Linked DNA regions of Homo sapiens: region 1 is linked to region 2. The links come from fine-mapping of genetic effects on gene expression. A gene starts in region 2. The other region holds a variant in brackets. All regions are shown on one strand. Distances are between the middles of the regions.

Evidence for each region. PIP is the estimated chance that this variant, and not a neighbour inherited with it, causes the effect.
Region 1: its variant is the best candidate, but not a certain one, in a credible set for the expression of LINC02147 in gastroesophageal junction (GTEx, PIP 0.85).

The regions. Positions count from the first base shown.
Region 1 is chr5:117,749,670-117,753,951 of GRCh38, reverse strand. All of the region lies in intron 1 of LINC02147 (long intergenic non-protein coding RNA 2147), which reads right to left. Among named protein-coding and RNA genes, the nearest start is that of LINC02147, 21 kb to the right of the region's middle. The variant A/C (reference allele first, on the strand shown) is at 2,168.
Region 2 is chr5:117,728,736-117,733,017 of GRCh38, reverse strand. It overlaps LINC02147 (long intergenic non-protein coding RNA 2147), which reads right to left and starts at 2,657. Exons shown (of 3, transcript NR_104997.1): 1 at 2,610-2,657.

The sequences.
Region 1 (4,282 bases), 21 kb before region 2:
TTTTTCATGTAAGGACTTCTTTTCCTTTGGGTGGATACCCAGTAATGAGATTGCTGGATTCAATGGTAGTTCTACTTTTAGTTCTTTAAGGATTCTACATACTGTTTTCCATAGTGGTTGTGCTAGTTTACATTCCCACTAGCAGTGCAGAAGTGTTCCCTTTTCCCAACATCCCTGCCAACATCTATTGGTTTTTGACTATTTAATTATACTACTCAGCCATAAAAAGGAATGAAATAATGTCTTTTGCAGCAACTTAGATGGAGCTAGAGTCCATTATTCTAAGTGAACTCAGAACTAAGTGGATTGAATTCCTAACTGAGAAATGGAAAACTAAATAGTATATGTTCTCACTTATAAGTGGGAGCTAAGCTATGAGGACACAAAAGCATAAGAATGATATAGTGGACTTTGGGGATTTGGGGGTAGAGATTGATAGGCGGGTGAGGGATAAAATAGTACATTTTAGGTACAGCGTACACTGCTTGGGTGATGGGTGCACCATAATCTCAAAAATCACCACTGAAGAATTTATCCATGTAACCAAAAACCACTTGTACCGCAAAACCCATTGAAATGGAAATAAAAAAAGAAAAATAAAGAAATAAAGATTCTAAGCCCCTGTCCCTTCAGACCTACTCTCCAAGTAATTCACAGATATATTAAAGTTTGAGAAGCACTGGTCTAAAGCACCAAACTTCATTGCCTTGAGCCTCCATATTTTACTGCCTTCTAACAAACATTCAAAGAACATGCACCAGAAAAAAGGCTTCATGTTTTATTTTATTTATTTATTTTATTTTTTTATTTTTTTTGAGACGGAGTCTCGCCCTGTCACCCAGGCTGGAGTGCAGTGGCACCATCTTGGCTCACTGCAAGCTCCGCCTCCCGGATTCATGTCATTCTCCTGCCTCAGCCTCCTGAGTAGCTGGGACGACAGGTGCCCGCCACCACACCCAGCTAATTTTTTGTATTTTTAGTAGAGACGGGGTTTCACTGTGTTAGCCAGGATGGTCTCGATCTCCTGACCTCGTGATCCGCCCGCCTCAGCCTCCCAAAGTGCTGGGATTACAGGCATGAGCCACCACTCCCGGCCAAGGCTTTGTGTTTTATAGTCACCTTGAAATGATATGTTTCTCCAAATTCAAGATGACTCTTCATATTACATTAAATAATGAAGACAAATAATGATGGAAGTAATTTCCTGACCCCACTCAGTGATAGATGGAGAGTGATATTTTTCAGATTTGTTTTCATTAGCGCTATCTTCAGTAATTCAAATTAAAAATCAATATTACAACAAATTTTCTCCATTTATTGTTATGAGCTGGCATCAATGTTTTCTGCATGAATCAGCAAATAACATTTTGTTTTTTATAAGATAGAGTTTATTTTACACATAAGGTTTAATAAAAAAATTGGTTTTCTTCATTTTTCTGAATTTGAATTAAAATATCACTTAGGTCTCTACTCAATGAAATACTGGAAATAAAATGCACACACCTAATCTATTACTATTAAACAGCTACTGAAAACTTCGTTTAGTATATTATCTAACTTCTTCAAAAACAGTGGTAACTCTTGTAAAAATAGAATGGTTTATTAAAGGGAATCATATTTTGATTATGTGAGTTTATTTCTTGAAACTTGTTATTTTCAGTTACCAGTTCAGATAAACTTACCAATAGACCAGAAATATCTCCATATATACAATGAGAGCCATAAAATAGGTTTTTATTAAATTTCTTCTGAGAACTTAAAATCTATATTCAGCATCTTTAAAAAGACAATCATATCAAGCAATGGAGACTCATCTCTAAAATAGCTGCTGTACAAAGCATTTACATCAGGCTAACTCCCTCATAGACAACATTTTAACATCTAAATATGTTTTGTAAAGATTACTTTCTAATTAAGGTAAATTTTGTTGAAATTTTCCATTTAGTCTTTGCCATATATCCTAAAATAAACTTGTTCATACTTTTAATGAATCTATTTATATCTACTTTTATGTGATTATCACTATGGATAATATTTATACTTACTGAGGCTGAAGCAGTAGGATCACTTGAGCCCAGGAGCTTGACACTGCAGTGAGCTATGATCATGCCACTACACTCTTGGCTGGGTGAAAGAGCAAGAGGCCATCTCTAAAAAACAAACAAAC[A/C]TGGCCAGGCACGGTGGCTCACACCTGTAATCCCAGCACTTTGGGAGGCCGAGGCAGGTGGATCACCCTGCGGTCAGGAGTTCAAGACCAGCCTGACCAACACAGTGAAACCCCACCTCTACTAAATACAAAAAAATTAGCTGGGCGTGGTGGCGCATGCCTGTAATTCCAGCTACTTGGGAGGCTGAGGCAGGAGAATCACCTGAACCTAGGAGGCAGAAGTTGTAGTGAGCCAAGATTGTGCCACTGCACTCCAGCCTGGGCAACAAGAGTGAAACTCTGTCTCAAGAAATAATAATAACAAAATAAATAAATAAATAAAAATAAAATTACATATTTTTAGTTATATATTTTTATTATTAATCATGAAATGTTTATACTGTTAATATTTTCCAAGGAAAATATGTCTAATGAACAACTTAGAACTAGTATAATATTTATTATTAAAAGTTGCTAATAGCCTTGTGTTAACTACTTTAACAAACCTGAATGATGTGGAAACTTATTTCGGAATAAAGTTATTCAGAACACATAAAAACAATATATTCAAATGTACAGAGGTCACAAGCCCAAGCATTATCTTTAAATACGTTTGATGTGTTTTACTCTTCTTGAATATTTCAGCATGGAAGCTGCACAAATGTATTTAAAAAAAAAAAAAAAAAAGCCTAAGAACTTAAAACTAAAGTGCTCATAAGGCGAAAGAGAGGATTCTATTGAGCTTTAAAAGAAGAATGAACTTCAACTTCATGTTATTTTTCAAAGATATTCTTGACTGAATGAGTAGGGTGCTAATTGCCTGGTGCAGGTGAAAGAATATTGAGTGGTAAATCTTCTTTAGCCATTAACTTCTACGGCCTTCTGCAGTATTTCTTACCAAAGTTCTCTCTTGAAAACTCCTTATCTGAAAACAATATTGGCAAAACTAAACCCCATCCTCTAAAGCATCTATGGATTTTTGAATAACTCTAGGTTGTTAAAATGGATAATTAATATAAATAAATTTGAGATTAAGGAAAAACAACTCAATTTCTAAAATTGGTTAAGGACATGAACAGGAAATTCACACAGACACACACACACACACCCTTACACATACGTTAAAATAATGAATACGATTTTGTAAACATACCCTAAATTATTTATAACTAAGAAACTGCACCTTAAAAAATTGTAATAATAACTTTTATCTCAGTTTAGAAAATATTAGAAAGCTTACCATAGCTAGTGTTGGTAAGCATTGGTAGAAATAAAAAAACCATACATTTTTGATGGGAGTGTAAATTGGTACTGTCTTTGTGAAAAAAATATTTTAGTGTTATCTACTAAAATATTAAATGCACATGCCCTTAATCTAGCAATTTTATTTCCATTAACACACTCTACAAAAGATTGAAAACATACTTAATATTATATGTATAAATCACCAATGGCTATTACTAATATTAAAAAGCTGGAATGAATGAGATAAATCTAAGTATAACGATATATAAAAAATTATTCAAGTCATTAAACAGAAAAGTCAACAAATATCAAATAGAATGATTTCATTGCTATTAAAATTACTATTAAGCTTTATATATGTATACCAATATATAGGTAGATAAAGATAGAAATAGATGCTCTTGACCCCGAACAACACAAGTTTGAACTGTGTGTGTCCATTTATCCTGGAATTTACTTCTGCCTCTGCCACCCTGAGACAGCAAGACCAATCCCTTGTCAGCGTACTCAATGTGAAGACGGTGAGGATGAAGACCTTCATGGTGATCCACCTCCACTTAATAAATAGTAAATATATTCTTTCTTATAATATTCTTAGTAACATTTTATTTTCTCTAGCTTACTTTATTGTAAGAATACAACTTCGCTTCTGGGCAACAGTAGGGTATTCATAGTTATGTTTCTGGGGAGTCAAAAGTTATACAGATTTTCAACTGCATGGGGAGGGGGCTGTGTGTTTAGGTAACTCTAAACCCCATGTTTTTCAAGGGTGTCAACTGTACATACTTGATTATGTTTATAAAGTTTATTGAAAGAAACACAAAATAAATTTAAAAGTGCTTACATTCGCGAGTAGGACTGCTGGAGACAGACAGCAGAGGACTTTGTTTC
Region 2 (4,282 bases):
ACACATACAGTAGGGGCTCCAACCCCTGGGCCACAGACGGGTATCAGTCTGAGGCCTGTTGAGAACTGGGCTTCACATCAGGAGGTGAGCGGCTAGCAAGTGGACAAAGCTTCATCTATATTTACAGCCACTCTCCATCACTGGCATTACCTCCTGAGCTCTAACTCCTGTCAGATCAGCAGCAGCACTGGATTCTATTAAGAGCAAATACAAACCCTATTTGAAGTGCACATGTGAGGGAGCTAGGTTGCGAGCTCCTTATGAGAATCTAGTGCCTGATGATCTGTCACTATCTCCCATCACCCCCGGATGTGACCATCTGATTGCAGGAAAACAAGTTCAGGGCTCCCACTGATTCTACTTCACGGTGAATTGCATAATTATTTCACTATATATTACAATGTAATAGAAATAAAGTGCTCAACAAATGTAATGCACTTGAATCATCCTGAAACAATTTCCCCCCACCCCAGTCTATGGAAAAATTGTCTTCTACAAACCCAGTCACTGGTGCCAAAAAGGTTGGGGACCACTGACACAGAGGCATGAGAAGGCAGATTGTCCAGGATCACTCAAGTGTAGTGGAAGAATTTAAACAGAGTAATCCAGAGGGCAAATAGAAGTTCAGGTTCAGGCCCCTAATGGTCCACCGCAGAATACAGTGACAGCTTACTAAGGCAGTGACAACTGGGACGGAAAGGAGAGAATACATGAGATGTTTAGAAGGTAGAATTAACACAAATTGTTGAAATTGAGCAATGGTGAAAATAAACCCTCACCCGTAATTCAGGACTCGCTCATATTAACTATGAATACATTCATGAAGAAAATTGAATAATGTATTTGAAATAACTGTGCCATCAGGACATATGGCTACTGTAAACCAAAAATTACCTCTGACTTAAATGGCCACTAATTATGTGGCACAACTTCTTTTTCAAGAACTGAGAAGGGATGAAAACACACACGCACACACACACACACACACACAAGCAAATTACAATGAAAAGAGGTACATGTTGGGGTGGAAGGAACAGTAAAATCCTTTGAACCATTCAAATACCTACATGATTTTATAAACCACCTTCCCGTATACTATTTGGTGAATTATCATTAAAAATCTCAAGCAAATCAGGCAGGAACATCATGAAAAAGTCAAATGATTGCAGGTAAAGAAAATTGTTTTAAATAAATGTAGCTTCACTAAACAAAATCTGCTTAATAATTTTGGCTGAAAGCTGCAGATAATATGTAGCAATAGGAGCAGGGAACTTAACATCTCTGCCAAGCAAAAAGAAACAATTCAGCAAGCAACAGTGAACTGATATGCACTAAATAAACAACCAGGCAGAAACACCGCTGTGAGAAAGAGCTTTTTATATAGCTAAGCCAAGCTGGATGGCTTAGAGTTGGAGAAAGAAGTGCTAAATATGTAACAGCCTGGGGCCTCGCTGGACCCAAATAATAGTTATTTCTGAGTAGGTCAAGCAAAAGTCAATAAAAAGGAAAGCAGGAATGGCTGTTGGGTTCATAATAGGACAATAATGCCCTTCTGGGAAAAATGTGAGTTTCAAATAGCCAGAATCGAATACTTAAGTTTCAAATGCTTTATCATAGACCACCAGTTCTGGAAATATCAGTAGAATAGCTAGAAAATAGGTAAATTCTGCCAACCAGAATAATCCCTAATACAGATTCCCTAAGCCAGTGTTTTTAACATGAGTAGAAGAATCACCTGCAATGGAATTACAAGGAAGCTTATTTAGTGGAAATTCCTGGATACCAGCTCAGACTTACCACATCAGAATTTCTAAGGAAGAGGCCTGGTAATTTAATTTTTAATTAAATTTTCAAAAGATTCTTCTGTCTTCTAACACCAGAGAACTTTTATTTTTGCGTATTTTGCATTTTGCTTTGCTTTCAAATGCCATCGTTCACAGATTAGATTCGTCAGAGAGAGAAAGGGAGATAGAAAGGGAGGGAGGGAGATCCGATAGATATATAGCCAATTTCTGGCCCAATTTTTCTTTTGCAGCAAGCAAAGGCTAAAGTAACACTCTGTAACACTTTATAACACTTTATAACACTCTATAAAGCACTAATTAGAAAACAGGTTATTCTGAGATAAAAGAACGTACAGCGAACAATTACTTTATAATCAAGTGTCAGATTGTATGGAGCAGAACATGCCCACTGTATTAGTCTGTTCTCACACTGCTACAAAGATACTACCTGAGACTGGGCAATTTATAAAGAAAAGAGGTGTATTTGTCCGTTTTCACGCTGCTGATAAAGACATAACCCAGACTAGGCACTTTACAAAGGAAAGAAGTTTAATGGAGAACTCACAGTTCCACGTGGCTTAGGAAGCTTCACAATCATGGCAGAAGGCAAAGAGGAGCAAGTCACATCTTACGTGGACAGCGGCCAGAAAGAAAAAAAGAGCTTGTGCAGGCAAACTCCTGTTTATAAAGCCATCAGATTTTGTGAGCTTAGGAACAGCATAGGAAAGACCCTCCCACCGCGTCCCTCCCACAACACGTGGGAATTCAAGATGAGATTTCGGTGGGGACACAGCCAAACCACATCAAGAGGTTTAATTGACTCACAGTTCCGCATGGCTGGGAGGCTTCAGGAAACTTCCAATCATGGCAGAAGGCTAAGGGGAAGCAAGTCACATCTTAAATAGTGGCAGGAGAGAGACAGAGTGAAGAAGGAAGAGCCACTTTTAAAACCATCAGTTCTCCTGAGAACTCACTATCAAGAGAACAGCATAGGGGAACCACCCCCAGGATCCAATCACCTCCCATCAGGTTCCTTCCTTGATACATGGGGATTACAGTTCAAGATGAAAGCCTAACCATATCACCCACAAAGGTGAATCAGAAGCTGGACTTCTCTGTGATTTCTTCCATTCTTCAGTATTCCTGAATCCCTTCCAGTAAAGTTTCTATACAACAATCTATCAGTAAGGCATTATCATTTAACAAACCTTTTAAAAATTATACAGGAAAACATTTGTTGAAGAATTTGGGATAGTATCATCTATAAAAATTTACTTAAGATGATTTTTTTTCCTTTGCTGGTAGGAGAGAAAGCAAGATAATAAATGCACTTAGTAGAATATCATAGTAAACAAATTGTTTAAAGATATATACTTTACTCTCCCGTAAGACTATGCATCTCTTGTACAGACATCCTGGTGAGAAAGTGGAACCCTAAATGGAACACTGAGCTTCAGGCATTTTTATTGGACCTCCGAGGAAAGGTACAGGCAAGTGGGGTCAGGTGTCTGGGATGATTGCAGTTGTCAGTTAAACTCTTGATATAGTTTGGCTGTGTCCCCACCGAAATCTCATCTTGAATTCCCACATGTTGTGGGAGGGACCCGGTGGGAGGTAACTGAATCATGGCGGCAGGTCTTTCTTGTGCTGTTCTCATGATAGTAAGTCTCACAAGATCTGATGGTTTTAAAAACAGAATTTATAAACTTGTGAATATATGGGTATGATGCAAACCCTAAAATCATAAATTCATCTAATAATTGTGATATCTATCTCTATAAGGCATGTATTGAGGGTGAAATTGAACCTGAAGATTTGTTAAATGAAACTATGAAATAAGTTTGTAAAGACATATGCATACTTCACCAACCTGCTCAAATTTAGATCGGCAAACCCTTTCCTCTTGATGGGAATGAATGAATGAAATCTGAATTATGGTCTGCTATTTCTTCTACCAAAAGCCATAAGCTTGAGCCAATAGGTGTGTAATAATTTTCAATGCTATTATTAACAGTGTTTATTTAGTTAATGCTCCTGATGAAATAACAATTTTTGATCTAGATTCTTTAGAGAGTGTTATTTAGAAATTAAGTTTCAAAATTCAAAAATTATTTTAAAAAAGAGTAAACTAGCAGACTCATCTCTTAAATATTAGAGTCACTTCTACATCCCAAACTCTAACCACCCAGCCAAATTTATTACTAATGGGTAGGTACAGAGGGTGTTTAAGAAAAAGATATAGATTACAGCTTTGCTTTATTCTATTTGAAAATTACTCAGCTTTGTGCCCAGCTGAACTCACTAAATTTCAGCTGTACCCAACATAGAATGTGAGGTGGATTCAGTTCTGTCCCACAGCTGACCAGCAACTACAGAAAGATTGAAGCCACTGACCTCAGGGTATGACTATAACCTCGGGGACAATAAGTAAGCAGGTAGTCCCCAGGTTGGGGCCAGACTTAAATGCTCCCATCAGAACTTCCTTGAAGAGCATAAAT